Regions from separate parts of the Homo sapiens genome. Here region 2 is linked to region 1. The links come from fine-mapping of genetic effects on gene expression. Tissue or cell type: substantia nigra. Region 1 holds a variant in brackets; the other region holds the start of a gene. All regions are shown on one strand. Distances are between the middles of the regions.

Evidence for each region. PIP is the estimated chance that this variant, and not a neighbour inherited with it, causes the effect.
Region 2: it holds the start of RPS28, and the variant in region 1 is fine-mapped to the expression of RPS28 in substantia nigra (Braineac2, PIP 0.95).

What each region holds. Positions count from the first base shown.
Region 1 is chr19:9,046,810-9,054,909 of GRCh38, forward strand. All of the region lies in intron 1 of MUC16 (mucin 16, cell surface associated), which reads right to left. Among named protein-coding and RNA genes, the nearest start is that of MUC16, 15 kb to the right of the region's middle. RefSeq lists enhancers at 3,154-3,653, 7,756-8,100. The variant AT/A (reference allele first, on the strand shown) is at 4,284.
Region 2 is chr19:8,316,888-8,324,987 of GRCh38, forward strand. RPS28 (ribosomal protein S28) reads left to right here and starts at 4,609. Exons shown (of 4, transcript NM_001031.5): 1 at 4,609-4,682; 2 at 4,769-4,816; 3 at 5,066-5,204; 4 at 5,385-6,453. The coding sequence starts at 4,644. The coding sequence ends at 5,188. NDUFA7 (NADH:ubiquinone oxidoreductase subunit A7) reads right to left here and starts at 4,488. Exons shown (of 4, transcript NM_005001.5): 1 at 4,421-4,488; 2 at 3,970-4,019. The coding sequence starts at 4,471. KANK3 (KN motif and ankyrin repeat domains 3) reads right to left here. Exons shown (of 11, transcript NM_198471.3): 8 at 8,064-8,100; 9 at 7,743-7,943; 10 at 7,562-7,660; 11 at 5,697-6,035. The coding sequence ends at 5,952. RefSeq lists enhancers at 2,608-3,575, 3,576-4,543, 4,398-4,637, 4,544-5,511, 5,512-6,477.

The sequences.
Region 1 (8,100 bases):
CTTCTTTCTTTCTCTTTCTTTCATCTTCCTTCCTTCTCTTTCTTTCTCCCTTTCTGCTTCCTTCCTTCTTTTCCGTCCTTCCTTCTCTTTCTTTTTCTCTTTCTCCTTCCTTCCTTCCTTCCTCCCTGCCTCCCTCCCTCCCTCTTTTTCTCTCTCTTTCTCTCTTTCTTTCTTCCTTGTTTTGCCATGTTGCCCAGGCTGCTCTTGAACTTCTGGGCTCAAGGGATCCTCCCAGCTCAGCCTCCCAAGTAGCTAAGACTATAGGCACGTACAACCATGCCTAGCTAATGTTTTGTATTTTTAGTAGAAATGGGGTTTTCCCATGTTGCCCAGGCTGGTCTTGAGCTCCTGGACTCCTGGACTCAAGTACTCTTCCCACCTCTGCCTCCAAAAGTGCTAGGGTTACAGGTGAGAGCCACTGCGCCTGGCCCTCTCTCTCTCATCTCAGATTTTTCTCTCCACCTTAGCCACTCCCAGATGTTCTCCTCACTCCTGTCTCCTTCCGTTGAAAAACCACCCTCAAGCTACTGGTGGATGAAGGGTGTGGACCACCCCACCCCTGGATCAAACCCCCAAGCCCCACCTCTATCACCCACAGCTATATTTCCTTGAGCAAGTTGCTTAATCTCTCCAAGCCTCAGTTTCCTCAACTACAAAACATATACAAATAGAAAGTGATACATGACTGCTTCATTGTAGTAACCATTGCACCATCTGCATGTATCCCACAATGTCATGTAGCAAACAACAAAAATTATTAAAAAGAAAAAAAGACGATCTGATCTCACAGATCTGTTAAGAGGATTAAATGGGATTATTCATGTAAAGCTCTCCATTTGTGATGTCATAGTGTAAATATCAAATTAACGGTGGAACGAGCTGTTGTAATCAATTCTTATCTAAATACGACCAATAATAACAATGCTTAATGTGATTATTACTAACCATAGTTGTATTTCCTCTTATATTAACCTCTTAGTCTCTCCTTACCATATTATAGATCATCAATAAATATTTATTGAATGAACGATTGAATGAATGGTTATTGAATTTTTGTAAGGAGGAAAAGATCACGGACTTCTTATAAAAAATATAAAAGTCAGTCCAGATGCGATGGCTCATGCCTGTAATCCAGCACTTTGGGAGGCCGAGGTGGGCTGATCACTTAAGGTCAGGAGTTCGAGACCAGCCTGGCCAACATGGTGAAACCCTATCTCTACCAAAAAAAAAATTAGCCAGGTGTGGTGGTGTGCACCTGTAATCCCAGCTACTCGGGAGGCTGGGGCAGGAGAATCACTTGAACCCAGGAGGCAGAGGTTGCAGTGAGCCGAGATCATGCCACTGCACTCCAGCCTGGGCAACAGAGTGAAACTCCGTCTCAAAAAAAAAGAAAAAGAAAAGTATAAAAGCCAGGTCTGTGGCCAGGCACAATGGCTCAACACCTGTAATCCCAAGACTTTCAGAGGCCAAGGCGGGCAGATAACTTGAGGTGAGGAGTTTGAGACCAGCCTGGCCAACACGGTGAAACCCTATCTCTACTAAAAATACAAAAAATTAGGCCAGGCTTGGTGGCTCGTGCCTGTAATCCCAGCACTTTTTGGGGCCGAGGCAGGTAGATCACGAGGTCACGAGCTCAAGAGATGGAGACAATCCTGGCCAACATGGTGAAACCCTGTCTCTCCTAAAAATACAAAAATTAGCTGGGTGTGGTGGCGCGCCTGTAGTCCCAGCTACGTGGGAGGCTGAGGCAGGAGAATGGCTTGAACCCAGGAGGCGGAGGTTGCAGTGAGCCGAGATCACACCACTTGCACTCCAGCCTGGTGACAGAACAAGACTTCGTCTCAAAAAAAAAAGAAAAATTAGCCAGGCATGGTGGTATGTGCTTGTAATCCCAGCTACTAGGGAGGCTGAGGCAAGAGAGTCGTTTGAACCCAGGATGCAGAGGTTGTATGAGCTGAGATCACACCACTGCACTCCAGCCTGGAGGACAGAGTGAGACTCTGTCTCAAAAAGAAAAAAGAAACAAACACAACTGGGTCAGGCAAGGTGGCTCACACCTATAATCCCAGCACTTTGGGAGGCTGAGATGGGAGGATTGCTTGAGGCCAGGAGTTTGAGACCCACCTGGGCAACATGGTGAGACCCCAATTTCTACTAAAAGTATAAAAATTAGTGCCGGGCACAGTGGCTCATGCTTATAATCCCAGCACTTTGGGAGGCCAAGGTGGGCAGGTCACCTGAGGTCATGAATTCGAGACCAGCCTGACCAAAATGATGAAACCCTGATTCTACTATAAATACAAAAATTAGCCGGGCGTGGTGGCACTCGCCTGTAATCCCAGCTACTTGGGAGACTGAGACAGGAGAATCACTTGAACCCGGGAGGTGGAGGTTGCAGTGAGCCGAGATCGCGCCATTGCACTCCAGGCTGGGCAACAAGAGCGAAACTCCATCTCAAAAAAAAAAAAAAAATTAGCCAGGTGGCAGGGCACAGTGGCTCACGCCTGTAATCCCAGCACTTTGGGAGGCCAAGGCAGGCAGATCACAAGATCAGGTGTTTGGGACCAGCCTGGCCAACACGGTGAAATCCCATCTCTACTAAAAATACAAAAATTAGTTGGACGTGTTGGCGGGCGCCTGTAATCCCAGCTACTCGGGAGGCTGAGGCAGGAGAATTGCTTGAACCCGGGAGGTGGAGTTTGCAGTGAGCCGAGATCACGCCACTGCCCTCCAGCCTGGGTGACAGAGTGAGATTCCATCTCAAAAAAAAAAAAAATTAGCTGGGCATGGTGGTGCGTGCCCATAGTCTCAGCTCCTTGGGAGGTTAAGGCACGAGAATCGCTGGAACCCAGGAGGAGGAGGTTGCAGTGAGCCAAGATCGTGCCACTACACTCCAGCCTGGCTAAGAGAGAGACTCTGTCTCAAAAATAAAAACAAAAGAGTTATTGGCCTGGCGTGGTGGCTCACGCCTGAAATCCCAACACTTTGAGAGGCCAAAGCAGGTGGATCGGATCATCTGAGGTCAGGAGTCAGAGACCAGCCTGGCCAACATGGCAAAACCCCATCTCTACTAAAAAAATGCAAAAAATAGCCAGGCGTGGTGGTGCGTGCCTGTAATCCCAGCTACTTGGGAAGCTGAGGCAGGAGAATTCCTTGAACCCGGGAGGTGGAGGTTGCAGGGAGCTGAGATCGTGCCACTGCACTCCAGCTTGGGTGAAAGAGCTAGACTCTGTCTCAAAAAAAAAAGAAAAAGGTTCTTGTAAGGACTCTGTGAGATGGACCACAGGCATGGGTCTCGGCACAATCTGTTTGTTTGTTTGTTTGTTTGTTTGTTTGTTTGTTACGGAGTCTCGCTTTACCCCCCAGGCTGGAGTGCAGTGGTACGATCTCGGCTCTCTGCCACCTCTGCCTCCCGGGTTCAAGTGTTTCTCCTGCCTCAGCCTCCCAAGTAGCTGGGATTACAGACACCCACCACCACGCCCGGCTAATTTTTGTTTTTTTAGTAGAGACAGGGTTTTGCCATGTTTCCCGGGCTGGTCTCCAACTCCTGACCTCAAGTGATCCGCCCACCTCGGCCTCCCAAAGGGCTAGGATTACAGAAGTAAGCCAGTGCACCTGGCCAGCACAATCGTTCTTGCTCCCTAGATGTGAACTGCTGTTTTCACCAGCAGGAGCTAAGGGGCAGGCTGTCTCAGATTAGATGCTTTTTAGAGCACTCTGTAGTTCCTTAAATGGAGCTGCAAATCCACAGGTTGCTGCTCAATGTCTGACTAGCTTCTACTTTATTTCTGACTTTATTTCTCATCTGTCTCCACCACACCCCTCCCTTCCACATACCCTGCATTCCAGCAAAACTGACCAATGCATCACATGCCAGACACACCCTGTGATGTCTACCCCAGGACCCTTGCACAGGCTTCTGCCTCAAGAGAGCTCATGATCCAGTGGACAGGCGTGGGCATTGGAATCTCACAAGCCCAGATCACCTCCCAGTTTCACCTCTTCAATGCTATTGACCTTTGGGGACTGACAAAACCTCTCTGAACTTCAGTTTGCCCAGATATAGCATGGACTGAAAAAATGTGTACCTTCTAGGTACAAGTCATGCCTCACTCAGCAACGGGGATATATCCTGAGAAATGCATCACTAGGCAATTTTGTCATTGTGCAAATACCATAGAGTGTACTTATACAAACCTACATGGTATAGCAACTACACACCCAGGCTGTAGGGTATGACCTCTAGATTTTACATATATATATATATATATATATATATATAT[AT/A]ATATATATATATATATATAAATATATATATTTTTTTTTTCCAGATGGAGTTTTGCTCTTTCGCCCAGGCTGCAGTGAAGTGGCACAATCTCAGCTCACTGCAACTGCTGCCCCCAGGTTCAAGTGATTCTCCTGCCTCAGTCTCCCCAGTAGCTGGGATTACAGGCACCTGGCACCTCACCCGGCTAATTTTGTACTTTTAGTAGAGATGGCGTTTCACCACGTTGGCCAGGCTGGTCTCGAACTCCTGATCTCAGGTGATCCACCCGCCTCAGCCTCCCAAATTGCTAGGATTATAGGTGTGAGCCACTGCGCCCAGCCTTAAAATTTATATTTTAACTTAAAATATATTTACAACTAGAGATGGGTCTCACTATGTTGCCCAGGCTAGTCTTGAAGTCCTGGGCTCAAGTGATCCTCTCACCTTGGCCTCCCAAAGTCCTGGGATTATGGATATGAGCCACTGCACCAGGCCAATGATAAGCGTTTGTGTATCTACATGTATTTAAACATAGAGAAAGGACAGTAAAAATACAGTATTACAATCTCTTGGGACCACTGTCATATATGCAGTCTGTCATTGACTGAAATGTTGTTATACAGCACATAATTGTACTGAATGAGGATTAAAGCTAATGGGACATTTAGCCAGGTGCAGTGGCTCACGCCTGTAATCCCAGCACTTGGGAGGCCGAGGTGAGCAGATCACCTGAGGTCAGGAGTTCGAGGCCAGCCTGGACAACATGTTGAAACCCCTGTCTCTACTAAAAATACAAAAATTAGCCGGGCGTTGTGGCAGGCGCCAACTACTCGGGAGGCTGAGGCAGGAGAATCAGTTGAACTCAGGAAGCAGAGGTTGCAGTGAGCAGAGATAGCACCACTGTAATCCAGCCTGGGCAATAGAGTGAGATGCTGTCTCAGAAATAAATAAATAAATAAATAAGTCGGGCGAGGTGGCTTACGCCTGTAATCACAGCACCTTGGGAGGCCAAGGTGGGTGGATCACGAGGTTAGGAGTTCAAGACCCGTCTGGCCAAGATGGTGAAACCCCATCTGTACTAAAAATACAAAAATTAGCCGGACATGGTGGCAGGTGCCTGTAATCCCAGCTACCCAGGAGGCTGAGGCAGAGAATTACTTGAACCCAGTAGGTGGAGGTTGCAGTGAGCCGAGATTGTGCCACTGCACTCCAGCTTTGGCGACAAAGTGAGACTCTGTCTCAAAAAAAAATATATATATATATTTATATATATATATACACACACACATATATACTTACAATACATAATAATATTAATAACATGATATAAATATTAACAACTTAGTATAATGATAGTAAGGATTTACCATGTCAGGCATCTTTCCAAAAACTCTTAATATATTAAATCATAGAATTCTCACAACAACTTTTTTTTTTTTCAAACGGGGTCTCACTCTGTCACCCAGGCTGGAGTACAGTGGTGCGATCTTGGTTCACTGCAACCACTAACTCCTGAGTTCAAGCGATTCTCCTACCTCAGCCCCCTGAGTAGCTGGGACTACAGGAGTGCACTACCATGCCCAGCTAGTTTTTGTGTTTTAAGTAGAGACAGGGTTTCACCATGTTGGCCAGGCTGGTCTCAAACTCCTGATCTCAAGTGATCTGCCCGCCTCGACCTCCCAACGTGCTGAGATTACAGGCACCTGGCACCGTGCCCAGCTCGTTTTTGCATTTTTAGTAGCGATGGGGTTTCACCATATTGGCCAGGCTGGTCTCGAACTCCTGACCTCAAGTGATCTACCTGCCTTGGCCTCCCAAAGTGCTGGGATTACAGGCATTATCTACTGCACCAGGCCCTCACAACAACATTTTGATAGTACTATTATTAAGCTCATTTCACAGATGAGGAACCTGAGAGAGGTAAGGAGAAGTACAATAATCTGCCTAAGGTCGTCGTGGAGCTACTAATTGGCTAAGCAGCTCCTGGAAGTCTCGCTAGAGAGTGTCACTGTTTAATGGACCGTTGGACATTTCCTAAGCCTTGGGTGTGTTTTACATCATTCACTAGCCATGCACAGCTAGTGAGCTCTTGCAATGCAGCTACTGGGGCTACCACAGTTGTAGCCATAATGCTATGTACTATGGGTGAGGAACTTAATTTTTTTTTTTTAATTTGTATTAGCCAAGCATGGTGATGTGCACCTGTAGTTCCAGCTACTCGGGAGGCTGAGATGGGAAGATCGCTTGAGCCTAGGAGGTGGAGGCTGCAGTGAGCTGTATTTGTGCCATTGCACTCCAGCCCGGGTGACACAATGAGATCCCATCTCAAAACAAAAACCAGGTCATAGGTAGATAAAGAGACAAAAGGTTGCCTTCTTTTGAGTTTCTGATGAGCCTCTCCAAAGGAGCCAATCAGATATGAATGTATCTAAGTGAGCACAGGAGGGACTCTGAATAGAATGAGAGGCAGGTTGGCCCTGAGCAGTTCCCAGCTTGACTTTTCGCTCTAGCTTAATGATTTTGAGAGGTGAAGCCCGCTGGGCTTCTGGGTCAGGTGGGGACTTGGAGAACTTTTCTATTTAGCTAAAGGATTGTAAACGCACCAATCAGCATTCTGTGTCTAGCTAAAGGTTTGTAAATGCACCAATCAGGACTCTGTAAAAACACACCAATCAGCGCTCTGTGTCTAGCTAAAGGTTTGTAAACGCACCAATCAGCCCTCTGTAAAAACATACCTATCCGCGCTCTGTAAAAACGGACCAATCAGCCCTCTGTAAAATGGACCAATCAGCGATCTGTAAAATGGACCAATCAGCAGGAAGTGGTTGGGGCCAAATAAGGTAATAAAAGCTGGCCATCTGAACCAGCAGTGCCAACCTGCTCATGTCCCCTTCCACATTGTGGAAGTTTTGTTCTTTTGTTCTTCATAATAAATCTTCCTGCTGCTCACTCTTTGAGCCCACACTACTTTTATGAGCTGTTAACACTCACTGTGAAGGTCTACAGCTTCACTCCTGAAGTCAGCCAGACCAGGAACCCACTGGAAGGAAGAAACTCCGGACACATCTGAACATCTGAAGGAACGAACTCGGGACACACCATCTTTAAGAACTGTAACACTCACTGCAACGGTCTGCGGTTTCATTCTTGAAGTCAGCAAGACCAAGAACCCACCGGAAGGAACCAATTCCGGACACAATCTGGGGACCCCGAAATTTACTTTCCCTTCACAGTCCCCTCCCTCTTCCTTCTTTCTCCTCCTCACTTCCTTTGTCTCTCTCCCCTTTCTCCTCACTCTTCCCTCATCTGATTCTCTCTCCATCTGTCTCCTTTTTTGTTGTTGTGGTGGTGGTTGTTGAGTTGGAGTCTCACTCTGTTGCCCAGTCTGGAGGCTAATGGCATGACCTTGGCTCACTGCAACGGCTGCCTCCCGAGTTCAAGCAATTCTTCTGCCTCAGCTTCTCAAGTAGCTGCGATTATAGGCACGCACCTGGATAATTTTTGTTTTGTTCTTTTTTTTGATGGAGATGGGGTTTCACTGTTTTCCAAGCTGGTATCGAACTCCTGGGTGCAAGTGATCCTCCCGCCTCCGCCTCCCAAAGTGCTGGGATTACAGGTGTGAGCCACTGCCCCCAGTTCCTTCTCTCTCTTCTGTCTGCCGCTTCTCATCCCTTCCACCCAACCAGGGCGGGAGAGGGAGGGGGATGAAACCAGGACGGGGAGGTGGGAGAGGGATGAAACCAGGGCGGGGAGGTGGGAGAGGGATGAAACCAGGGCGGGGAAGTGGGAGAGGGATTACAAACTCCCTCTATTTACTCTCAAGCTTCTCTGTTTCC
Region 2 (8,100 bases), 730 kb before region 1:
GTCCCAAATGTGGAGGGTACAGAGGACCCTTTCTGAGGCTCCCAAGGCCCGGGACATGTCCCCATGCCCCCCACCCCACGGCTGAGCTTGGCAGCCAGCCTCACTTGACTTTGTCCACTCTGAGTGGCTTTTTCCCCTAAAGCCAGGCTCTGGACGCCCTGCGTTTCCTGTTATCTCAGGAAGTCTCTGGAGAACCCTGCTAGGATCAAGGCCCATTATTCAAGAACACCTTAGCCTTGGAGCCTGTCAAGATCTCTGCATTTCCTGCCACCATGTGGCCAGGCAACTCCTCTCTGGAGCCCAGAGAGGGGTGAACAGAGCTCGGTCTTGGCTTGAACTAAACCCTGGGCTGGATTTACCTGGAAGCCTGAGGCCTTAAAAGAAATGCTCAAAACAAGGATGGGCAGGGTGGCTCATGCCTGTAATCCCAGCACTTTGGGAGGCCGAGGTGGGTGGATCACTTGAGGTCAGGTGTTCGAAACCAGCCTGGCCAACACTGCAAACCCCATCTCTACTAAAATACAAAAATTAGCCAAGCATGGTGGTGGGAGGCAGAGGTTGCAGTGAGCTGAGATCACGCCACTACACTCCAGCCTGGGCGACAGAGCGAGACTCCATCTCAAAAAACAAAAAAAGCTCAAAACAAAAGACGGGCTTTCCAGAGAGAGGGAGGAGAGAAGACAGCAAAAACCGTAAATTGATCTGTTTCCACTTAGCCATGTTTCTAAGTCACTTTTTTGTCTGGGAACTGTTTCCCGGAATTTAATTTTTTTCTGAGGCAGTGATCATATGCACTGCAGCCTGGATGATATATGCAATCATATGATCGCTTGAGGTGTGATCATAGCTCACTGCAGCCTCAACCTCCTGGGCTCAAGCAATGCTCCCGCCTCAGCCTCTCAAGTAGCTGGAACTACAGGCGCACACTACCACATCTGGCTAAAAACAATTTTTCTATTGTTTTTGTGGAGTCGGGGGTCTTGCTATGTTGCCCAGGTTGATGTCGAATTCCTGGCCTTAAGTTATCCTCTCACCTTGGCCTCCCAAAGTGCTGGGATTACAGGCGTGAGCCACCACTCCTGGCCTTTTTCTTAAAACAAGTGTTAGTCACTGTATTTTTTAAAAATAAGAAACATAAAGTAAAAAATGTTTAATATTAAAAGCAATATATTATGTGAAAGACTTTGCTTAAGGAGGCTGGATGTGGTGGCTCATACCTTGGGAGGCCAAGGTGGAAGGATTGCTTGAGGCCAGGAGTGTTTTTTTTGTTTGTTTTTTTTTGAGATGGAGTCTCGCTCTGTCGCCCAGGCTAGAGTGCTGTGGTGCGATCTCGGCTCACTGCAACCTCCGCCTCCCAGGTTCAAGCGATTTTCCTGCATCAGCCTCCCAGGTAGCTGGGAATACAGGCGTGTGCCACCATGCTGGCTAATTTTTGTATTTTTAGTAGAGATGGGTTTTCACTATGTTGGCCAGGCTGGTCTCAAACTTCTGACCTTGTGATCCGCCTGCCTCGGCCTCCCAAAGTGCTGGGATTACAGGCATGAGCCACCATGCCCAGTCAGAGGCCAGGAGTTTAAGACCAGCTTGGGCAACATGGTAAGACCTTGTCTCTATACAAAAATTTAAAAATTAGCCAGGCACGGTAACATGTGCCTGTAATCCCAGCTACTTGGTACGCTGGACCAGGAGGATCACTTAGGCCTGGAAGTTCGAGGCTGCAGTGAGCTATGATTGTGCCACTGCACTCCAGCCTGGGTCACAGAAACCCAGTCTTACAAAAAAAAAAAAAAAAAAAAAAAAAAAAGGCCAGGCGCGGTGGCTCACACCTGTAATCCCAGCACTTTGGGAGGCCGAGGCGGGCAGATCACGAGGTCAAGAGATCAGACCATCCTGGCAAACATGGTGAAACCCCGTCACTACTAAAAATACAAAAATTAGCTGGGTGTGGTGGTGCACGCCTGTAGCCCCAGCTACTCGGGAGGCTGAGGCAGGAGAATCACTTGAACCCGGGAGGCGGAGATTGCAGTGATCTCAGATCCGCCACTGCACTCCAGCTTGGCGACAGAGTGAGACTCTGTCTCAAAAAAGAAAAAAAAAAAAAGACCAATAAAACATCCAGATGAATCACTAGAGGGTGCCGTCATCCTAAAAAAGTCAAAACTTTCACAAAGCCATTTCCTCAACTGGCCCACAACTACCCTGATAGAAAGCCAACTAGGGGGGTCGGGGGTTGGGGGGGAGAGAGCATCAGGAAGAATAGCTAATGGATGCTGGGCTTAATACCTAAGTGATAGGTTGATCTTTGATCTTTGCAGCAAACTACCATGGCACGTTTACCTTTGTAACAAAACTGCAAATGTACCCCAGAACTTAACGTTAAAGTTGAAAACAAGCCGGGCGCAGTGGCTCACACCTGTAATCCCAGCACTTTGGGAGGCCGAGGCAGGCGGATTATGAAGTCAGGAGTTCGAGACCAGACTGGCCAACATGGTGAAACCCCGTTTCTACTAAAAATACAAAAAATTAGTCAGGCGTGGTGGCACATGCCTGTAATCCCAGCTACTTGGGAGGCTGAGGCAGGAGAATCGCTTGAACCCGGGAGATGGAGATTGCAGTGAGCTGAGATTGTGCCATTGCACTCCAGCCTGGGCAATAAGAGCAAAACTCCGTCTCAAAAAAAAAAAAAAAAAAAAGTTGAAAACAAAGTTTGATACTTCTAATATTTGGAATTAGTCACAACATATAGGCATTTACATAAATTTCATTATTTTAATGCTATTTTTCTTCCTTTCATTATAATCCTCAATGACTGCCTTACCTCTGCCTACCCTTTGACTTCATAGATTATACCATTATCCCTTTCCCTCAATGGGTTCCATCCATACTGGCCTCCTTCCACTCAGGCTCTGTCCAGCCTGACACTCTTAGCCCTTCCTGTTCCCTCTGCTCAGAATGTTTTTTCTTTTTTATTTTTTTGAGACAGAGTGTTGTTCTGTCACCCAGGCTGGAGTGCAGTGGTGCGATCTCAGCTCACTGCAATATCCACCTCCTGTGTTCAAGCGATTCTCCTGCCTCAACCTCCCGAGTAGCTGGGACTACCCGCGCGCGCCACCACGCCCGGCTAATTTTTGTATTTCTAGTAGAGAGGGGGTTTTACTGTGTTTCACTGTGTTGGCCAGGCTGGTCTCAAACTCCTGACCTCGTGATCCGCCTGCCTCAGCCTCCCCAAGTGCTGGGATCACAAGCGTGAGCCACCGCGCCCGGTCAGAATGTTTTTTCAATAATTATTCTTTGAATGGGTCCTTCCCATCATTCAGGGGACTCAACTGTCAATTTCCAAAGAAAGATCTTTCCCAATCATCTGACTTTACGTAGCCACCCTCCAGCTTCCACTTATTTTGTTTTGTCTTCAAAGCATTCCAGAACAATACTACCTGCTGTGTTTGTTTCCCTACTATGCTTCTCCCTAGAATGTGGCGTCCATGAAAGAATGTGGATAAGAACTTTCCTGGTTCACAAAGTTAAACCCAAGGCTGAGGTCATACATGACGGGGGCTTGTAAATATCAACTAATATTTTAATATAAATGAGTCTGAAATCAGGACACTTCTGGGTTCAAGTCCCCGCTGCCACTTTTTAGCTTCTGAGTGACTTGAGGCAAATGATTTCGCCTCTCTGGACCTCTTTTTTCATCTGTAGCTTGGGGATAACACTGACTAACATGGCCACGCTGAGCACTGCAAATCTAGCCTGATTGCCAGTCAGAATGCACGCCCGGCCTCGCTGTTTCAGGAGGGCTGTCCTCCGGAGTTCAGCAAGGTTAAAGGCAAACCTCTGCCTCCACAGCCTGGCAGGGGACTGGTGGCAGGATGTCAGCCCTCCGTTTCAGGGGTCTAAAGGAACACAGATTTCGTTTTTGGTGGAGAAAGGACAGAGCCAGAGGCTGGGCAGCGAGCGGGGCCTGCTCACCGCTTGGAGATCTCCTGGTAGCGTAGCTGCAGCTTCCCCTGCAGGTCATGCTGTGGGAAGAGGAGAGGAGAGGTCGGCCTGCAAGGCACCCCAGGAGAGAGGAAAGGAGAGGGCAAGGGACCAGGGATGGTCCGGGGATGCGCATTTTAAGGGAAGGCAGGGGATGAACACTCGGGGAAACGGATGTGGGTCCTGCAGGTGAAGAGCAAAGCCAGAGTCCGGGCCCACAGATCCAAGGCTAAGAAGGTCGGGGACTGGGGAAATCCCAGGCCTGAGTGGTTCCCAGGCCAGGAGAGGGTCCCGGGCTGAAGGGGTGACTAGCTGGGGGTTCCCAGGGAGATTCGGGGAGAGCGAAGGGTCCCGGCTTAGGAGGGAGGTGAGGAGCAGGAGCGGGTCCCGGACACACGGAGCCCGAAGCCCCCCATGGTGCAGCCCTGTCCGCCCCGCGCACCCCGGACGCCCAGTTCCGCAGCCGCTGGATGAGACGGGTGGCGGACGCCATCTTCCGTCCGCGATACTGAAGGGCGCAGCCGGTGACGTCTCCACCGCTGGGGCTGCTGGGAAAGACGCGGCGTGGTATCGCGAGACGGGAGTGGGCGGTGCTAGAACGTCCTATAAAGGCTCTCCCCGAAGCACGTGACTCCTCTCCGCCAGACCGCCGCCGCGCCGCCATCATGGACACCAGCCGTGTGCAGCCTATCAAGCTGGCCAGGGTGAGGTGGGGGCCCGAATTTGGGGGCAGGGGGAGGGATTAGAGGAGCCAAACGGGCCGGGTCTGAACCCAGCTTCTTTCCTCCAGGTCACCAAGGTCCTGGGCAGGACCGGTTCTCAGGGACAGTGCACGCAGGTAATCGGGTGGGGGCATTTGGCCGACTGCCGGCGACCTAAACCCTGATGTGACCTCTACCCTGCCCTAACCCCTGCCAGCCGGAATCCGGGAGCCGATTCTCATTTCATCACGGGGTTCTGATGGTTCCCTTTAACGATCTGTATTCTGGCCCCGACACGTTCTCTGAATTCATATCTGCTTCCCACTCCGCGGTGCCTTTCCGCGGCCCGCCCTTACTTCTTCCTCCACTCCGGTGGGGACCCGTAGGTGCGCGTGGAATTCATGGACGACACGAGCCGATCCATCATCCGCAATGTAAAAGGCCCCGTGCGCGAGGGCGACGTGCTCACCCTTTTGGAGTCAGAGCGAGAAGCCCGGAGGTTGCGCTGAGCTTGGCTGCTCGCTGGTGGGTGCAAAGAGGACACCCCTTTGATAGACCTTTGGTTGGTGGTAGGGAGGCTTCGTTAAGCCCAGGGTGAGAGGGTTTGGGAGGCAGAGTCTACATACAGAGACTGACAAGAGGGAGGCGGGAGTTTGCCAATTGCTGCGGGGCCTGTCAACATCTCATGTTTGGGTCTGTTTACAGGGTCTTGGATGTCGGGTTCGACCACTTGGCCGATGGGAATGGTCTGTCACAGTCTGCTCCTTTTTTTTGTCCGCCACACGTAACTGAGATGCTCCTTTAAATAAAGCGTTTGTGTTTCAAGTTAACTCAGGTTCTTGTCTGGGTTATACGACTAGGGTTTCTCCAGGTTTCTTGAGTGGCTCCCAGGCGGTCACCGATCCTCCGCACTCTGGAAATCCTGGCCGTGCGGTCTTGCCAAACGAAGCTTTTCCTTTTTGAGGCGGGGGGTCGTGTTTGTCGATTGCACCCTCTACCCCAAACAAAACACAAGCGTAGTAGGAATGTTTTATTAGCAAAGAAGTTTCAGAGAGTGGGTGGATCAGGGCTCTATCACTTGGTCCCCACCTCACCTTGGTGGGGCCAGAGTGAGCCCCTTCCTGCCACAGTCACCCCAACTGAAATTGCCTTTCTCTTCGGCCAGTGTTAGCCTCTGAGCAGGGGACCCTGGACCCTTCTGTGCGCCAAAGGCTGAGGTGACTGACGAGGAGATCTCCCCACAGCTAGGTGTAGTGAGCCAGACGAGGCAGCTTACTGAACCTGGGGGTTCTCTCCATTGTCACCGCATTCTCCTTCACCAGGTGTGGCTGTCTGGGAGCCAGGGGGTGACTCGCTCTGGAGAGAGGGGAAAAGAGGGGGGCCTGCTGCAATCTCCTTGAGGCAGGAAACGTGGGATTCAGCCCCAGCCTCACTTAGTGGAGGTTCTTTTACCATGGACCCAGGCTGCCTGGTTTGTATCCAACCTCTGCCCCTTCTGACCTGGAAGAGGCGCTTGACCTTCCTCCCACATCCCTTCCAGTGGGGTGAGTACAGGTGTTCCTCAGTTTACAATGGGTTACATTCCGGTGAGTACATCATAGGTTGAAAGTATTGCAAGTTGAAATGTGTTTAATACACCTAATCTCCCAAACATCACAGCTTAGCATGGTCCATCTTAAGCTTGTTCAGAACGCCTTAGCCTGTAGTTGGGGAAACTCGTCTAACACGAAGCCTGTTTTAATAAAGTATTGAATGTCTTATGTAATTTATTGAATACTCTGCTGAAGTGTGGTTTTTACTAAGCACACATTGCTTTTATGCTATCATGAAGTCAAAAAATTGTAAGTTGTGCCAGGCGCGATGGCTCACAGCTGTTGTAATCCCAGCTACTTGGGAGGCTGAGGCAGGAGAATTTCTTGAACCTGGGAGGTGGAGGTTGCAGTGAACTGAGATTGTGCCGCTGCACTCCAGCCTGGGTGACAGAACGAGACTCTTGTCTTCAAATGAAAAAAAAAAATTAGCTGGGCATGGTAGCACGTGCCTGTAGTCCCAACTACTTGAGAGGCTGAGGCAGAAGAATCGCTTGAACCCCAGAGGTGGAGGTTGCAGTGAGCTGCAGTCGCCCCACTGCACTCTAGCCTCGGTGACAGAGGAAGACTCCATCTCAAAAATAAATAAAAAATGGTAAGTGGAGCCATGGTAAATTGGGGTCAACCTGTACAGGATGAGTGGGCTGATTAGATAACTTGGATTATGAAAGTGCTAAAACATCCTGGCACTTGGCCATCAGAGTATAGTGGTGTTGGGGGTTAATGTGTTCTGCAAACTCACCCAGTCTCCAGTTCTGAAGCTCTGGACCCCCTTCCCCACCCTGCCTGATGCCAAAGGGCTCCTTTTTCCTTTGATAAGAGCCTCCCTGGCAGTAGGTAACAGGAGCCCAGGGGCATGCATGAAAGGTCTTAGCTAGGTCTCTGTGACCTTAGGTTACTTCCCCCCTTGAGGACTCAGTCTCATGACCTGGGGTAGTGTCAACCTCACTGGGGTTTTGCTGCTTTCACATCAAATCCCAGCCCCTGCCAGGCGCTCTGGTTTCACACCTGTAATCCCAGCACTTGAGGATGCTGAGGCAGAAGGATCCCTTGAGCTCAGGAGTTTGTGGCTGCAGTGAGCTCTGATCACACCACTACACCCCAACCCGGGTTACAGAGTGAGACCCTGTCTCCCAAAAAAGAAAAGCAGCCACATAGGAGAATCCAGACACTGGTTCTGCACCCCTGGTGCCACCTTTGGGGAGCAGAAAGGGAGGCTCAGGGCATATTTACTATCCTCTGCAAACTGAATTTGCAGCTGGGAAAGTTTGTTTCTTCCAGAGCTGTGCTCACCTGGGTGTCGGGCTGGCCCGAGCTCAGGTGGGCATGTAGCAGAGCGGCCACCTCATCCTGCTCAGCCTCCAGGGCGATGGCCAGGGCACTGGTGCCCTCCTGTGGAACGTTAGGGACAGTCAGATCCCTGAGCCAAGCCATGGGCACCCCCCAAGATGCCAGCCCCATTGTGGGGTCTTACATTGTCCAGGATGGCAGGGTCACAGCCTGGCTGGGTGAGCAGCAGCCGCACGGTGTCCAGGCGCCCATACTCACTGGCACACATCAGCGCTGTGGCCCCATCCGCATCCTGCGCATTCACATCAGCCCCACACGCCAGTAGGGTTGCCACCATGTCCTGTCGGCCATGGCTGATGGCCAGCATGAGGGCTGTCTGCCCCGTCTGGGGAGTGGGGAGGAAGAGGGAACAGGCTGGGGTAGGCTCAGGGAAGGGAGGTCACAGGTTGACTCCCAAAGTGGAAGTGACTCCTGGCTGAGAGCCACAGTGGGGGCGCCCACGCACCTGACTGGCCTTGGCATTGACATCACCCATGCAGAAG